2 separate regions of the Homo sapiens genome follow, and region 1 is linked to region 2. A link means that fine-mapping ties the variant in region 2 to the expression of a gene that starts in the linked region. Tissue or cell type: whole blood. Region 2 holds a variant in brackets; the other region holds the start of a gene. All regions are shown on one strand. Distances are from middle to middle.

Region 1 (8,088 bases), 410 kb after region 2:
CCCTCCCAGGTTGTCCACATACCTCTCCAGCTTGAGCAGGACAAGCTGGGAGCCTGAGGGCCCACACACCATCTTGGCTACTGGGACCCGCTGTAGGCTTGGCTCTCCATGCTGTGGGTTCTGGAACAGGGTGCCCAACCATACCTCATAGCCCGTGAGAGGCATATGGCTGGGAGAGAAGCTCTGCTAGGTCATTTGTGACTCTCAGTCCATTGCCCCAAGGCTCACTTGTTAGCTTGCCTGGGGAAGGGGGAAGGTGGGATGAGACTGGGTCCCCAAACACAAGGGAGGCTCACCAGGAGGAGAAGCACTGCCGGGCAGTCAGTATCCACTGCTCCTTCACTAGAGACCCCCCGCAGAAATGCTGGCCCTGCCTAGAGGAGTGGGGAATTAGGACAGGTAACAGACTCCTGGGACAGATGCTAGACCTGCCATCTTCTGGCTAGGACCTCTGGGGGCAGGGATAGATTCCCAGCCCCCAGTGGGATAACCACAGAGGACACAACCTCAGCTCCTCTCTGTGGGAGACAGGCAGTTGTGCCTCACCGATTCCGCAAGCTGACTGTCCAGGGTGAGTTGCCCGGATGGCCCCCAACCACGCGCAGCTTGGAACGCCGCTGATCCAGCCGATCCACCCTCTTGCCACACTTCTCAAACTGCACCTGGTCTGTAGGATGGGGTGGGCTGGATGAAACCCAGACTGTGTGGATGTCGTGGGCTAAAGGGCCTGACCCATAACTGGCCCAACTCCTAACCTGGGGGGTCCAGGATTGATGGCGGCTGGTCATCAGCTGAAAGACAAAGTTCACTGGGGTTAAGGGAGCCAGCCTTTGGGTGGGGGCTGAGGCAGGGTCATGGGGGAAGCGTCACTAGTGCTCACCGCAGCGTCGCAGGGCACAGTAGTCGAATGGGGTCCTTGGGTCCATCGTGTAGCACCAGGGCCCATGGCTATCCCCATCTGGGTTCCGGCAGAAGTTCTCCTCCAGTTGTGCATGCGGTTCGGAGGTAAACGTGAACCTAGGCGGAAGCGGGAGCAAAATCGTGGCAGGGTAGTCTCAACCATTTCCAGGCTCTGGTCCCAGACACCAAAGCATGCCGCCCCAGGGTTAGGGCCCTGGCGGGGCCGGGAGCACCAGGGACTCACTGCGGCTTGTGCGGCGTCTCAGCGGACCAGCGCTGGCACTGGACACCCTTGCGGGTCTTGCTGACCGTGCCGCGGTACTGCTCCCCTGCGCCGTGGTAGCAGTCTGTGGCGGGTGCGGGCAGCCATCAGGCCGAGACCTCGCCCCGGCCCTCCGGTTCCAGGCTTCCAGCCCGGCTCTGTAGCCCCCAAGCTTGGGCCTCACCCTGGGGCCGCACGTCGTCTGTACAACGCCGGATCTGGTAGCAAAAGGCCGCGCGCATGCCGGGCCGCAGTGTGAAGCACCAGGGCGCCTCTGAGCCGTCGGGGTTCCGGCAGAAGTTCTCCCGAAGGTCTCTAAGCAGGCGCTCCACTCAGCCCTAGCCCGCCAGCCTCCAGCCTTGAGCCCGTGACTACCTTCCTCCCGTCTCACCCGCAGCAGCACGTCCCAACGCCCGCCCCCCCCCCCCACCTCACTTGCACGCGTATTTTTCTGGCGTAAATCGGTGCTGATGCGGGATTTGCGCGTCCCAACGCTGGCAAGGTACGCCCGCAGTGGTGGTATTGGCTGTGCCCCGGTAGCCCTCACCCTTCCCGCGGAAGCAGCTGACAGTTGTGGCCTCTTGGCGGGGCTGTGCCTCGGACCCTTAGATGGACCGAGATAGGTCGGGCCCCGAGCGAGAGCTGAGATCCCTCTGGGGCTGGGACCAAACCCGCCTTTCCCAGGTGTACGGTACTCCACGGGGTATGCTCTCAGGTCACGCCCAGCCCCTCTTACCTCCCCGGCCAAGCCACGCCCCTCCCCAAGGTTCCCAGGTACCCTCCCAGGCCTGGTCCCCGCCGCCTACCGCAGCGGGGGAGGTCACAGAACTCTCGCTCGATCTGCGGATCCGTAGTGTAGCACCATGGCCGCTCGGAGCCGTCAGGATTCCGGCAATAGTTGTCGTCCAGACCTTGGTCGAGGAACCTGGGGGCGGTAATGGGGCGTGAACAAGACCCTGGGACTCTGGCTTATCTGGCCCCGCCCAATTGCCCTACACGGAGCCCTGCCCCTGGAGTCCTGGACCTTCCCTAGCCCGGCCCCCAGGACGCCGATACCGCCTACGCGTACTTGCCCGGCTCGAAGGGGTGCTGGTGCGGGTGCTGAAGATCCCAGCGCTGGCACTCGCGCCCTGACTCCGTGCGGTCTACCGCGCCGCGGTATTCCTCGCCATTGCACCAGACACACGCGGCTGGAGACAAAGAGCCAGTGGGTTCGTGGATGGACGTGGGCTTGTCCCTCCACTCTCCCAGCTTGACCCGGCGCCGCTTACCCTCCCGGCAGGATTTGATGCCGCAGCTCTGGAAGCGCACAGCAGGGTCTGTTGTGTAGCACCAAGGACCTCCGGGGTCGCCATCAGGGTTACGGCAGAAGTTCTCTTCCAGGCCATTCCGGAGAGTGGGCGTGTACCTGAGGGCCCAGAGCATCACTATAGTGTGTGCTGGGGGAAGGCCCCAGGCCGGGACGGAGGGAAGGTGTTTGTCTCACTTGTGATCATTTGGGAACTTGTGGCTCCAAGCCTGGCAGGGCAGGCCACCCACGGTCGTGGCCATGGTGCCCCGGTACCCAACCCCATTGTTCATGATGCAGGTCCGTACGTAGTCTGGGAGCAAGAGACAGAAGATCAACTTGGGCTGAGGTCCCCTGTCTCCCACCCTGCCCCTCTCCACCCCCACTTGCCTTTCTTCTGGAAGAGGTCACAGCGCCCAGAACGCCGCAGCCTCGTGTGGGGCGAGTGTTGAGTCCATGGCAGCAGTTGGCAACCATGGCTGCTCACGTTGTAGTGGAAGGCCCTGGAGAGAAGAAGGCACAGGGTAACGCCACAGCCCAGGCTTCCCTGCCCCCAGTCTTATCTAGGCCCAGTGGCCACTCACCGGCAGTCCATTAAGGGCCCACAGCGACCAGCACACTCTTCAGCATCTGCCACATCCTCCTGCCAAGGCCCGGGCACCACCGCATGTAGCAGGTGCTGTAGCTCTGTGCCCCGGAGCACTTGGAAGTCATTCAATGGCGAGCGCTGCCCTGCAGAGTAGGCATGAGTGGGTGCAGGTCAGGTGGGCATACATGTCAGTAATGTGTATTGGCATGTCCACACTTTGTTCATTCAGGGGATCAAAGCTACAAGGCTTCTGGGATGGACCCTGTATGCACTTTCAAGGGCCAGTCTAGCCCCCTGCACAGATACTTGTGAAAAAAATTTCCCCTGGGAAGCAGGCCCAGACTTGGTAGTTATCACCGGTGCCTCTGTTTAGTGGCCCAGGCACCGGGCTCAGATCTAACACATACGCTCTGTGAGAGCAGTGGGTGATGAAGCTTGCCCCACCTCATCTCTCAAATGAGAATGCTAAGGCTCAGAGCCATCACATTACCCAGCCAGGGGCCCTGGCTAGGCATTCAGACTCCAAATCTGGGCTCTCACCTGCACAAAGGCATATGCTAGGTTAGAGGGGTAGATCAGGCTCAGGAGGGGTCACTGCCTGCTGTGTGCGTGCATCTGTGTGGTCCTGACACTGCTTCAGTGCTAGAGCAGACGTGCTAATAGAGGCCTAAGTGGGCAATGTCTATGTGTTCCTAGGGCTTCCCAGCTGTGCTCAAGAGGGCAAGGTCACTGCCCCATGCCCACTGAGCCTCTGGCTCCCCGACTTTTTTCTCATCCTAGAATAGGAGAATGGGGCCAACCCCCTCCTGAAGGCAGATGGGGATCAGGGTTGGGGGCACTTACCAGGGACCCCTAAGCATTGAGTCAGAAGCAGCAGGAGTGGGAGCCACCCCATCCTTCTGGCTGGAGGCTGCACTGTGACCCACCACAGCCCCATCCGGGAAGTTGTGAAACCTGTCCCTACGGGATTGGGTGGCTCTGGCTCCACACGTCAGCTCAGGGCCTGCTGGACCCTGACCTGAGACCTGGTGACAGGAGCCATGAGGGGCCAGGCCTCAGGTCCCATAGGTCAGTTGCAAGGGCCTAGTACAGCTTAGTGGACAGGTGTTAGGAAGGTTTGGTGGGGACACTTGAGGTGCCCTGGGGTTGGGGTGAAACCCCTCTGCAGCCTAGTCAGCCCAAGGGCATTGTGAAAGTGAGAGCTGCCAGAGGTCTGGGCTCCAGCCCCTGGGTGACATTAAACTTTTCTGAATTTCGGTTTTTCCCTGTAAATTGGGGAAAATTACTTGCCCCAGCTTCAACACTGCCTCCCCTCCACCCTTTTGCTGCTGCCTTATCAGGCCCCAGCTGTAGGCAGGTCAGCCCACACCCGGCGGCAGAGCCCAGAGAGGCTCGCTCATCTCAGCCGCCAGAAGTGTCATCCCAGGGAAGGTGAGCGAGGCTGTCCACTAGGACTAAATAGGGGTGGAGGTAACAGGTAGCAGGGACTCTGGCAGGAACGGCCTTTCAGACGTTTTAAGGACCGTCTGAGCGGGGCCTCTAAGTATGGGTAGGAGACAGGCGGCCTAGGGATTCCGGTTAGCATGTCGCGTTCTGCCGCAGCAGGGCTGGGAGCATCCCCAGAGCAGGCGGAGGTCGGAGGTGGTGAGGCCTTTCGGCGAAGCTGAGGCCTGGAACAACCCGGTGGGAAGCCATGGAGGGGGTCCCCTAGCGGAGGCTGGGCGCGGGCCAGTGCGCGTGCGCGGCTGGAGGCTCAGCGCGCAAGCGTGCGCGTGATTTGGCCCTGAACGGACGCCGTAGCCAAGAGGTTGGGCGGATGTTGTGAGCCGGGTCGCTGCGGCCGAGGCTCCGGGTGAGTGAGGGGCGGCAGGGCTCTGAGCCTGGCGGGTTCCGGCTATTCCCTTCGCGGTCCGGGCTAGTCCAGTGCGAGGGCACCTGCAGCGCAGGGATCTGGGTGCGAAACTCCGAGCGGAAGCTGGTCTGGCAGGTCCTGTGGAGCTTGGGGCCAGGCGGGGGCGACTTGGGGGAGCCATGCGCCGCCCTCGCCGTCCTTGGGCTCCCAGACGGAGTAGGTTCAGTTCTGAGTCCGGATACCCCGGCGGGGTTGGACGGGATAGCCGTGACAGGGAGTCCCCGGGCGGGGACAAGGTCCGCCTCTCACCTGGGTCCTCAGCAACTGACTCCCGGAGCCCACTCCGGGTGTCTGGAAGGTCTGCTCATCAAATGAATGACTGAGTTTAATCAGATCTTCAACTACTCTGGTAGTGAAGGGGCACCGATCATGGACGCCCACCGAGGGCCCGAGGTCGGGAAAATCACCTTCCCGAGGAGCAGGCGTGGTGCAGACCCACAAGGGTTTGTGGCGGGAGTAGAGGGTCTGTTTGGGGTGAGATAAGAGACTGAACTGCAGAGTAGGGAGTGCTGGCTAAGGCAGTGCTGCAGAGCGAAACTCTAGACCTGCGCTGTCTAATAGAACTTTATATGATGGTGGGAACGTTCTACCTTTGTGCTGTCCAACAGAGTAACCATTAGCCACATGTGGTCATTGAACTCTTGAAATGTGGCTAAGGCAACTGAGAAATCGAATTGTTAATTTTTAAAACTTTAAATTTAAGTAACCTCATGTGGATGACGGCTGCTGTGTTGGACAGCACCGCTACACATCAGTGAGGCCAGCACCAGGGACTCAGTGCAGGTTCTGGAGCAGCTGCAGCAGCAACATGATGTGAGGGATAGATGCACTAGGAGGACCAATGGAGTTTGCCATGAGGGCTGGGCAAGGGTGGTGCTTGGATGAGGTGGGAGGCCACATGTGTGAGTGGGAATGGTGAAACTATCAGGACCATGGATAAAAGAAGGGAGGAACCCAGGGCTGAGGAAAGAGGCTCCAGCCTTGTGGGGAGTAAGTGGGACTTATGGCTAGAGATGACCAGACCAGTGGTGGTCTGCACTTGGGGGAATGTGTAGGATTGTCGCTTCTGGTTGTGAGCTGGACTCAGTATGGCTTACAACTGAGATGGATACAGGGGCTCTGCCCCTAGGACACCTCACTTTGGACATTTTGGTCTGATTTCCACAGAGCTGAGACATTTTGTTATGGTTCGGCAAAAATATATCTAGTACCTGCTCTCTGCCCAGCCCTGTGCTGGGCACAGGGACACTGGAGAACAAGAAGTGGTCCCTGTTACATGGGCCTAGACCCTGGCTACCCTCCCTGTGTAGGAAGCTGGGAGCCCCTGCATTCCCCTGCCCTATGTGTTAGTGTGCATGCCCCTGGCCTCACCTGCTCCCAAGCCTTCCTGCCATGGCAGGACTGAGGTCAGGTGTGGGGGCCCCTGGCTGGCCCTGAGTAGACAGGCTCTGTGTCTGGCTCAGCCCCCAGGACCACTGGCTGCCCATGAGAGATGAAGGATGGCATCCAAGGGGGCCGGCATGTCTTTCTCCCGCAAGAGCTATAGGCTGACCTCAGATGCTGAGAAATCCAGGGTCACAGGTAAGAGCTGGCAGGGAAGGAAGGAGGCTCCTCTTGTTGGGAGGAGAAGGAAGGGACAAAGGCCTCAGGCCTTGCTGCACCTGTGGCTGGCCTAGGACCAGAAGTCTCTGGGGCCAGCAGGGGCCAGGAGCTGCACTGATCATGTGGCCCTTTTCTCCCTTCTGACTTGTGGCTCAGGCATTGTGCAGGAGAAGCTGCTGAATGACTACCTGAACCGCATCTTTTCCTCTTCTGAACATGCACCCCCAGCAGCCACCAGCAGGTATGGCTGGGTGGGTGGCCCCTCCTCACTCTGCTGGGCCAGACCAGAATAAGGAGGCTGCAGTTGTAGGGAAAGGGAGCCTGGGCTCTGGACAGATAGGCTTAGGCTCTGTTCTCACTGTGCTCCTGGCTGCGAGATCTCTGGCCAGAGAGTCTGCCTTCCGTACTCTGCTTCTTCCTGTCTCCAGGCAGTGCTAGTTCCTTCTGAGAGTCAGGGAGCAGAGGTCAGGGAGCGGGTGCACATTCATGCCCAGCTAGCACCTGGCACCTACTCCATACCCAGCATCTGCCCCTGCATGTACCTGCCCTCACCTTGGCCCCAGCCTGGCCCCTTGTAGCTTCTGACTGACCTTGTAAAGAACAAACTCCTCCAGGGCCTTTTCTTTACAAGTTTAATACTTTTAAGTGTAGTCAGTATAAAAGTTACAAGTACATTTTAGCAGAAACTTAGAGGGCCAGGCACAGTGGTTCACACCTGTAATCCCAGCACTTTGGGAGGCCAAGGTGGGTAGATTGCTTGAGTCCAGGAGTTCAAGACCAGCCTGAGCAACATGGCAAGACCCCATCTCTACAATAAAATACAGAAATTACCTGGGCATGGTGGTGTGCACCTGTAGTCCCAGCTGTTAGGGAGGCTGATGTGGGAGGATCACTTGAGCCTAGGAGGTTGAGGCTGCAGTGAGTTGGCCTCTGCATGCCACTGCACTGTAGCCTGGGTGACAGAGCAAGACCCTGTCTCTAAAAAAAGAAGGAAAAGCACCTGCTATCTTGTTATTTTAACATGACTATTCAAATGTGATTCTTTTCTGTTTCTTTCTTTGTGTTACATTTTTAATTTTTAATTTTTGTGGGTATGTAGTAGGTATATATATTTATAGGGTACATGAGATACTTTGATACAGGCATGCAATGCGTAATAATCACATCATGGTAAATGGGGTATCCATCCCCTCAAGCATTTATCTTTTGTCTTATAAACAATCTAGTTATACTCTTTTAGTTATTTTTAAATGTACAATTATTATTTACTATAGTCACTCTGTTCTGCTACCAGATAGGTCTCATTAATTCAATTTTTTTGTACGCATTAGCCATCCCCATCTCCCCACAAGCCCTATACTACCCTTCCAAGCCTCTGGTAACCATCCAGTACTTTGCCTCTATGAGTTCAATTGTTTTAATTTTTAGCTGTCACAAATAAGTGATAACATGCAATGTTTGTCTTTTTCTGCCTGGCTTATTTCATTTAACATAATGACCTCCAGTTCCATCCATGTTGTTGCATATTACAGGAT
Region 2 (8,100 bases):
TCTGCCAGAAGCCCCAAAGACGCCCCGCCCCACTTCCCACAGCTTCCTGGCCCGCCCCGCCGCTGCCTCCCGCCCCACCGCGGCTCCCAGGCCGCTGGCCCTACCGGCACCCCCCCTTTGGCGAGTCGGCAGCCACGTCCTTGTCCTCACCCGCAGCGCAGTGACGCCGACCCATCCAACGGTCATCGCATGCGCGTGCCCCGCGCAGGCCCCAAACCCCCACGGATTAGGTTGAAGGTCAGACAAAAAATCCCGGACCCATACGTCCGGTTCCTTAAGGCCTTGCCCACACGCAGCGGCTGGCCCCGCGGTGGGAGTGGGGACGGGGCTTTCGAATGGGGGCCCCGGGAAGAGTCTTGGCAGGGATGAGGAAAGAACCCGTTCTAGAAAGCATCTGGGTAACACCAAAATGTATTACTACCCTAAATCGCCATGAACTGGAGCCCTTTCCCGGCTAACTCCCACAAAGATTTCTGTTCTCAAGCCAACATGGAAACAACTAGACGGGACACAGCACCGGGCAGTTTTATGTACTGACTTCCTTTAAGCGTTATCTAATAAAAAGTGTGTTATCTAATAAAAGTTCCACACAGTATTTAACCGTCTTAATTCATCTAGGGTAGCAGGGGATATAACAGAACTGCTGGGTTCCACAGGAGGTTGAGGGGCCAGGATCCCCAACACTAGATATCTTCCTTAGCGGGGAGAAAGCTGGAAATTACAAGATGACTCAACGGAGAAATGGGCTTCAGTGGGTAACTTTCAGAAAATTATAAACCCATATCAGTGCACATAGCGAGGGAAAGGGGAGTTTACTTGAGGTTTGGGTTACTGTGAGCAGACTACTTGGGGTGACTAGTATTGGCATCAGAACCAGAAATCCAGGCGCTCAGGGCAGCCCTGCAGGTGGGGTGGGTCTCCAGGCTGCTCCATACTCAGCGCCTGTGTTCCTCTCCATTCTTCGGGATCCATCAGACATACTCCATTGAGTACCCCCATCCCACCCCCTTTTCAGCTTCACAGGTTTCACAGAAATTTCTCACCACCTGTTTAAAAATAAAAATAATTCAGCCTCTTGACATAGCTTCTTCTAGGTAAACGGTCTTCTTTTTTTTTTTTTGTTTCCTTCTGCTCATAAAAGAAGGGTATTTCCTTGTCTGGTTTTTAGACAGAACACTAGCAGTCTGCAGAGTGTCAAAGATGTTCTCCTGGGGGATTACACTGGCGCTACAGGGTGGCAGGATCGTGGAGTCAGCATTAGTTGGTGTCCATGCTGCAAGCCTCATCATCCCCAAAGCCCTGCTGAGAGCTGCTTGGTCGTGTCCCTCCATCAGAGGAACCAGAACTGCTAAGTGAAGGTGTCTTATAAAATTCATCATCTCGACGTTGGTAAAATAGCACATAAGCTGCTTTAGTCTGAAATACAAGAGGGGGAAAGACCATTCAGTGCTTGGAAAAATCACCCATTTTCCCCAGCTTTTCTCTAGCTGTCCAAAACCCTCAAGGATCTGCCATATCCACACAGAGGAGACCCTTCCACCTGAGGATGGCTGCCCCTGCCAGGCAGCAGGAAATGGAAGGAGCCTTGTGCAGAGAACTCTGAGGAGAGCTGAGCTTCTCATTTATGAAGGTCCCTGAAGGAATGCCAGCCAGCTCTGTCACACCTAGCTCCCACTATCACATCAGGATGATGAAATAACCAACTAGCCTGATAGAGGCTCTTCCCAGCTTTAATCCATAACGACATGAGGAAGAACCACATATCATGGCCTACTCACCACTATCTGATCCTCAGAGGCCAGGGACACGTTGCTATCATCAAAGTAATACCATTTACCATTCAGTTTGTTCTTCGCATATGCAGTGTCTGCCAAGTCAACAAAGAAAATACTCTAGCGGTCTCCAGAGAATTAATCTGGCTAGCTTATTAGGCTTGCACTAAATAAACACAAAAATCCCCAAAACAAAACCCCTGAAATTAAAAAAGTTTACAGTGTGTGTCTTAACAACCAAAAAACAACTCACCTTCTTTTCTAATCTGTTCCTTCTCAAAAAGGATCAAAAGGCTAAAAATGGAGCTGTCAGGGACCAAGATTTTAAACTATAATTTTGGGAAACTAATAGAAAAAACAGAGCTATTCAGTGCCAATCTTCAGGATGGCTATGTGCAATAATCCAAAACCAGGGAACCCATAAAAGGAGCTGAAACTTCTAAGATTTAAGCAAAACAATAGCTCTCACAAGGACATGCCAAGTCAGTCTCCCCCATTGCATCTAGGCAGGTGGCTACTAACATCAACAGAATGCTTAGTGCCTCGGGAGCCTACAGAATAATCCCAGTTAGAGGAACATTGGGTGTTTGGGTTTGCAGAGCTGGGATGTGAACAACATACCTTAGTCTCCATATCCAAAAAAAAAAAAATTTATCTTTCTCTAAAACTAGGAGTCCAGAGTCTGTGGTTAGGTAACAGTTTCCCACAATGATTCAAGCATTTCCCAGAGGCAATGCTTCTTGTCTTGACTTTACACTATTCCCAAGCAGGATGTGTTTATTACAGCAATCCCAGCCCAGTTCCTGCTCCACCCAGACTCTCAGAAACTACAGAACCCAATGGAGATCTGATATCCAGTGTCAACTTACTGTGTGGTTTTAGGTAAGGTGTTTAACACTTCAGCCTCAGTTTCCTCACTATAGCATTGACTGCACAAAGTGGTGGTGAGGATCATGGGAAAGGGCAACAGAGAAGGTGCCCAAGGCCAGTTCACACAGTCTGTGCTTGACACAATAGCAGCAACGGTGGCTTTCAATTTTGAAGTTCCAACTGTAGGCCCAATGTGGACCCTCACACAACCAGCCTAACCTCATGGATGAGAAAACTGAGGATGAGAAACTTGCCCAAATGGTATGTTTGTGTGCAAAAATTAGCAAATAAAAATGAACACAGGCAGGGCACGGTGACTCACACCTGTGATCCCAACACTTTGGGAGGCCAAGGCAGGGTGGTTCGCTTGAGCCCAGGAGTTCAAGACCAGCCTGGGCAACATGCCAAAACCCTGTCTCTACTAAAAATACAAAAATTAGCCAGGTGTGGTGGCGCACACCTGTAATCCCAGCTACTCGGCAGGCTGAGGCACGAGAATCGCTTGAACCCGGGAGGTGGAGGTTGCAAGTGAGCCGAGACTGCGCCACTGCTTTCCAGCCTGGGTGACAGAGTGAGAATCTGTCTCAAAAAAAGAGCAAACCAGCCAGGCACAGTGCCTCACACCTGTAATCCCAGCACTTTGGGAGGCCGAGGCGGGCGGATCACGAGGTCAGGAGATCGAGACCATCCTGGCTAACATGGTGAAACCCCGTCTCTACTAAAAATACAAAAAATTAGCCAGGCGTGGTGGCGGGCGCCTGTAGTCCCAGCTACTCAGGAGGCTGAGGCAGGAGAATGGCGTGAACCTGGGAGGCAGAGCTTGCAGTGAGTGAGATTGCGCCACTGTGTTCTAGCCTGGGTGACATAACGAGACTCCGTCTCAAAAAAAAAAAAAAAAAAAGAATTAAAAAAAAACAGAGAGGGGAATCAGTATGAAGAAAGCGTGCAGCATGAAGCCTGTGAAACTGCATAAGCAAAGCATTTAGGGCAATGCCTGGTCCACTGGTGAGAGATGATGGCCGAGCACATTTCAACATCTCAGAAGGAAGCAGATGTCAATACTTACAGTGGCCAACCCCCATGGCTCCATAATGATTGGACACGGCAATGAGGTCGTACACATAAGGCCTTGCTGACAGGTTACAGACAAACTCGGACATGTTCAGCCCTCTGAGCACAAAACACAAAAATAGTTATTGAATATGTTAAACCCAAACAAAGTAGTTAAGAGTAACCCAGCAACCTCTGTTATGCAACAGGGCAGAACACAGGGAGGCACTCAAACTATTCGAGAGAGACCAAGATGGAAGGGACTCTAGGATCCATGTTCTGACCACTGACATATTCAGGCTAGAAAATGGGGCTGGGTGTGGTGGCTCATGCCTGTAATCCCAGCACTTTGGGGGGCCAAGGCAGGTGGATCACCTGAGATCAGGAGTTCGAGACGAGCCCGACCAACATGGTGAAATCCCGTCTCTGCTAAAAATACAAAAATTAGGCCGCGCACGGTGGCTCACACCTGTAATCCCAGCACTTTCGGAGGCCAAGGCAGGCGGATCACGAGATCAGAAGATTGAGACCATCCTGGCTAACACGGTGAAACCCTGTCTCTACTAAAAAATACAAAAATTAGCTGGGCGTGGTGGTGGGCGCCTGTAGTCCCAGCTACTCGGGAGGCTGAGGCAGGAGAATGGCGTGAACCCGGGAGGTGGAGCTTGCAGTGAGCCAAGATCGCACTACTGCAGTCCAGCCTGGGCAACAGAGCGAGACTCCGTCTCAAAAAAGAAAAAAAGTATGTGTATATATATATATATACACACACACACACACACACACACACACACACACACACACATATATACATTTATATATACACACACACACAAATTAGCCGGGCATGGTGGCACACACCTGTAATCCTAGCTACTTGGGAGGCTGAGGTAGGAGAATCGATTGATCCTGGGAGGCAGAGTTTGCAGTGAGCCGAGATCGTGCCATTGCACTTCAGCCTGGGCAACAAGAGCGTAACTCCGTCTCAAAAAAAAAAAAAAAAGGCCGGGCACAGTGGCTCATGCCTGTAATCCCAGCACTTTGGGAGGCCAAGGTGGGTGGATCATGAGGTCAGGAGTTTGAGACCATCCTGGCCAACATGGTAAAACCCCGTCTCTACTAAAAATACAAAAATTAGCTGGGTATGGTGGCAGGCGCCTGTAGTCCCAGCTACTCAGGAGGCTGAGGCAGGAGAATTGCTTGAACCCAGGAGGCAGAGGTTGTAGTGAGCCGAGATCGCACCACTGCACTCTGGCCTGGCGACAGAGTGAGACACGGTCTCAAAAAAAAACAAAAACAAAACAAAAA[A/C]AACAACAACAACAACAAAAGAAAATGGGAGAACCTTTCTGGGTAACTCCAGCACCAGACAAAATGGTGATGAGGGTCTAGAGATACACACAGAGGGCTTCAGCAAGTATGCAGAAATGGCTGTTCTTAACAGAATTACAGTTGGTGCCATAATAATTTAAACTCAACCAAAACAGGCCCCAGAAAGCTTTCTTCCTCCAATATTTTATTTAAAAATTTTCAAACACACAGAAAAGATAAAGAATTTTTTTTTTTTTGAGACGGAGTCTCGCTGTGTCGTCCGGGCTGGAGTGCAGTGGCGCGATCTTGACTCACTGCAACCTCTGCCTCTTGGGTTCAAGTGATTCTCCTGCCTCAGCCTCCCAAGTAGCAGGGATTACAGGCATGCGCCACCATGCCTAGCTAATTTTGTTTTGTACTTTTAGTAGAGATGGGGTTTCACCATGTTGGTCAGGCTGGTCTCAAACTCCTGACCTCGTAATTTGCCCACCTCAGCCTCCCAAAGTGCTGGGATTACAGGTGTGAGCCACTGCGCCCAGCCAAGATAAAGAATTTTTACAACAAATACTTATTATCCATCACCTGGCGTCTCCTGCTGACATGCTATACTTCATGTATCTATTCTTTCCCCCAGAAAGCATTTTAAAATCTACATTTTGTGGGCAACTCCCTTTTTTTTTTCTTTTTTTGGAAACAGGGGCTTGCTCTGTTGCTGAGGCTGGAGTGCAGTGGCACAATCTTGGCTCACTGCAACCTCCGCCTAGTGGGTTCAAGCAATTCTCCTGCCTCAGCCTCCCTAGTAGCTGGGATTACAGGCGTGCACCACCACATCCAGCTAATTTTTGTAGTTTTACTGGAGACAGGATTTCACCATGTTGGCCAGGCTACTCTCCGGCTCCTGATCTCAAGTGATCCACCCACCTTGGCCTCCCACAGTGCTGGGATTACAGGTGTGAGCCACTGTGCCGGCCTCTTTTTTTTTTTTTTTTTTTTTTTTTTGAGATAGAGTCTCGCTCTGTCACCAGGCTGGAGTGCAGTGGTGCAATCTTGGCTCACTGCAACTTTTGCCTCCTAGGTTCAGGCGATTTTCCTGCCTCAGCCTCCTGAGTAGCTGGGACCACAGGTGTGCGCCACCACATCCAGCTAACTTTTGCATTTTTAGTAGAGATGGGGTTTCACCATGTTGGCCAGGATGGTCTCGATCTCCAGACCTTGTGATCTGCCCACCTTGGCCTCCCAAAGTGCTGGGATTACAAGCATGAGCCACCGTGCCCAGCCTATTTTTTTAAATATATTTTTTATTTTTTGTAGAGAGGAAGTCTCTCTATGTTGTCCAGGCTGGTTTTGAACTCCTAGGCTCAAGTGATCCTCCCACCTTGGCCTCCCAAATTGATGATATGTGAGCCACTGTGCCCAGCCAGGGAACATCTATCTGTTAACTTACTTTCCTGTTCTTAGTTACAGTCTGTACTGTGGGGCTTGAGAGGATATGAGTAGACAGCCAGTCCCAATCCCTACCCCAGGGACAGGATCATGGCAGGTGTGCAGCCCACCTGCAGCCCCCAATAATAACCCAACTCTACCTGACAGGCTATTCTTGGTTGCCTTGTCCCCTGTTGTGCTGCCTCTGCTAAGGTGAGGCTACCTGTGACAGATGATGGACAGGAAGGCCAGTTAGGTGGCCTAAGTGACTCGAGAGGGAAACTAGCAGTGGCAGGGGTGACTGGCAGCAGCCTGTGTCTGGGCAAATGCTTCCACTGGAGAGTCTCTTCCCCAAAGATGGGAGGATAGGGACAGAAGGGGTAACTACAGCTAAACTCTGACCTCCTAGACCCCGGCAACACACATCCTTACTCAGAAAAGTTTTTGGTGGCAAACCACTCAGCCAATCAGTGCCAAGATTTTCTGCCTGTTTTTAAATGTTCCTAACACTGTAGTCACCATGACCCACCTGATTGGGAATTCTACGACTGTGTCGAGCTTATCCCTCCAGTATCTGTTGTAGGAGAAACGTTTGAGGTGGACCACCAGGATCTTGGGCAAGGACCATAGGTCAAACTTTTTTGTGGCCTGTTGATGCTTCTTACAGTTGGGACAGTACCTAAAAAGAGAAACCTCCACTTAGCAGGGCAAGCCGGCAGCCAGTGCCACCTGGGCACTCATGCATGGAGGCACAGCTGCAGTCCCCTGATAGCTGCCATCCTCTCGGTCAGCACTCAACACTACTGCTTCTGGCCAGGGACCTGTCTTCCAAAATGGGGTGACGGCTTTCCTTGGAAACCTCAACTCACAGAGGATTATGTTGTAGGGTTAGCTATATAAAGAAGTGACACATCCAAATACAAAGGGGTTTATGTGCACAGATGGCCCTAGCAGATCTGAGTCCTGGGGTGCATGGGGCCTCTGCCCAGACAGTGAGGAGCTGCGTACCAGGGGTCATGCTCCCCAAGGGTCTCCATGGTGGTGAAGAGCTCGATGCAGTCTCTCAGGGCCACTGTGGTCTTCTTCTTCTTCTGAGGCTGCAACATGCTCACATGCTTCTCGTAGGCCTATGGGAATCAAAGCACTCAGTTCTGCTGGAGAAAGAGATCTTACTGCATTAAGACATGAAGGCCTACAGAGGCTCTCCCACCTGGAATGTAGTACACTTTCTAGAGCCTCTGAATATAAAATGACAAAATCTTGAAGTGCTTTTCCTTCTCAGTCTTAAATATAACTTGCTAAATTGCTGTCCAACTGGTGAAAGTGATCGCAGTCCACATCCAGAGCAGAAACCAGCAGACACCACCGACCACGAACCCCGAGGGACCTACCTCAGATTCTTGCTCATCATAGTAAAGTCTCCGAGTTTCACTGTCCCAATCCATGGCCAGTGTAGATCGAGCTGAGGAGGACCAAAATGTCACTTGTTATGGAATGGCAAGCAACAGGAAAGGCTCTCCAAGTGACAGGAGTGAGAAGGACCACACTCAGGCCACACCATCAACACCTTCTCCCCCATCAGCAGCCAGTGTCAAGAGCAATGCTCTGCAATGGGCCAGCCCTTCTGACCCCCAGCCCCAAAAAGCCTTTGGCAAAGACTTCCTCAGTGATACAGATA

The links. PIP is the estimated chance that this variant, and not a neighbour inherited with it, causes the effect.
Region 1: it holds the start of MST1, and the variant in region 2 is fine-mapped to the expression of MST1 in whole blood (TOPMed, PIP above 0.99).

The regions. Positions count from the first base shown.
Region 1 is chr3:49,684,716-49,692,803 of GRCh38, forward strand. MST1 (macrophage stimulating 1) reads right to left here and starts at 4,759. Exons shown (of 18, transcript NM_020998.4): 1 at 3,883-4,759; 2 at 3,035-3,182; 3 at 2,841-2,953; 4 at 2,649-2,763; 5 at 2,434-2,570; 6 at 2,232-2,352; 7 at 1,969-2,087; 8 at 1,598-1,766; 9 at 1,347-1,477; 10 at 1,145-1,247; 11 at 881-1,017; 12 at 756-791; 13 at 547-667; 14 at 297-374; 1 more. The coding sequence starts at 3,976. RNF123 (ring finger protein 123) reads left to right here and starts at 4,842. Exons shown (of 39, transcript NM_022064.5): 1 at 4,842-4,891; 2 at 6,415-6,532; 3 at 6,710-6,794. The coding sequence starts at 6,451. RefSeq lists enhancers at 1,169-1,882, 1,883-2,596, 4,113-4,672 and a silencer at 2,151-2,270.
Region 2 is chr3:49,277,036-49,285,135 of GRCh38, forward strand. It overlaps C3orf62 (chromosome 3 open reading frame 62), which reads right to left and starts at 197. Exons shown (of 3, transcript NM_198562.3): 1 at 1-197. It overlaps USP4 (ubiquitin specific peptidase 4), which reads right to left. Exons shown (of 22, transcript NM_003363.4): 17 at 7,814-7,884; 18 at 7,431-7,549; 19 at 6,952-7,101; 20 at 3,709-3,812; 21 at 1,779-1,867; 22 at 109-1,416. The coding sequence ends at 1,258. RefSeq lists a silencer at 21-220. The variant A/C (reference allele first, on the strand shown) is at 5,001.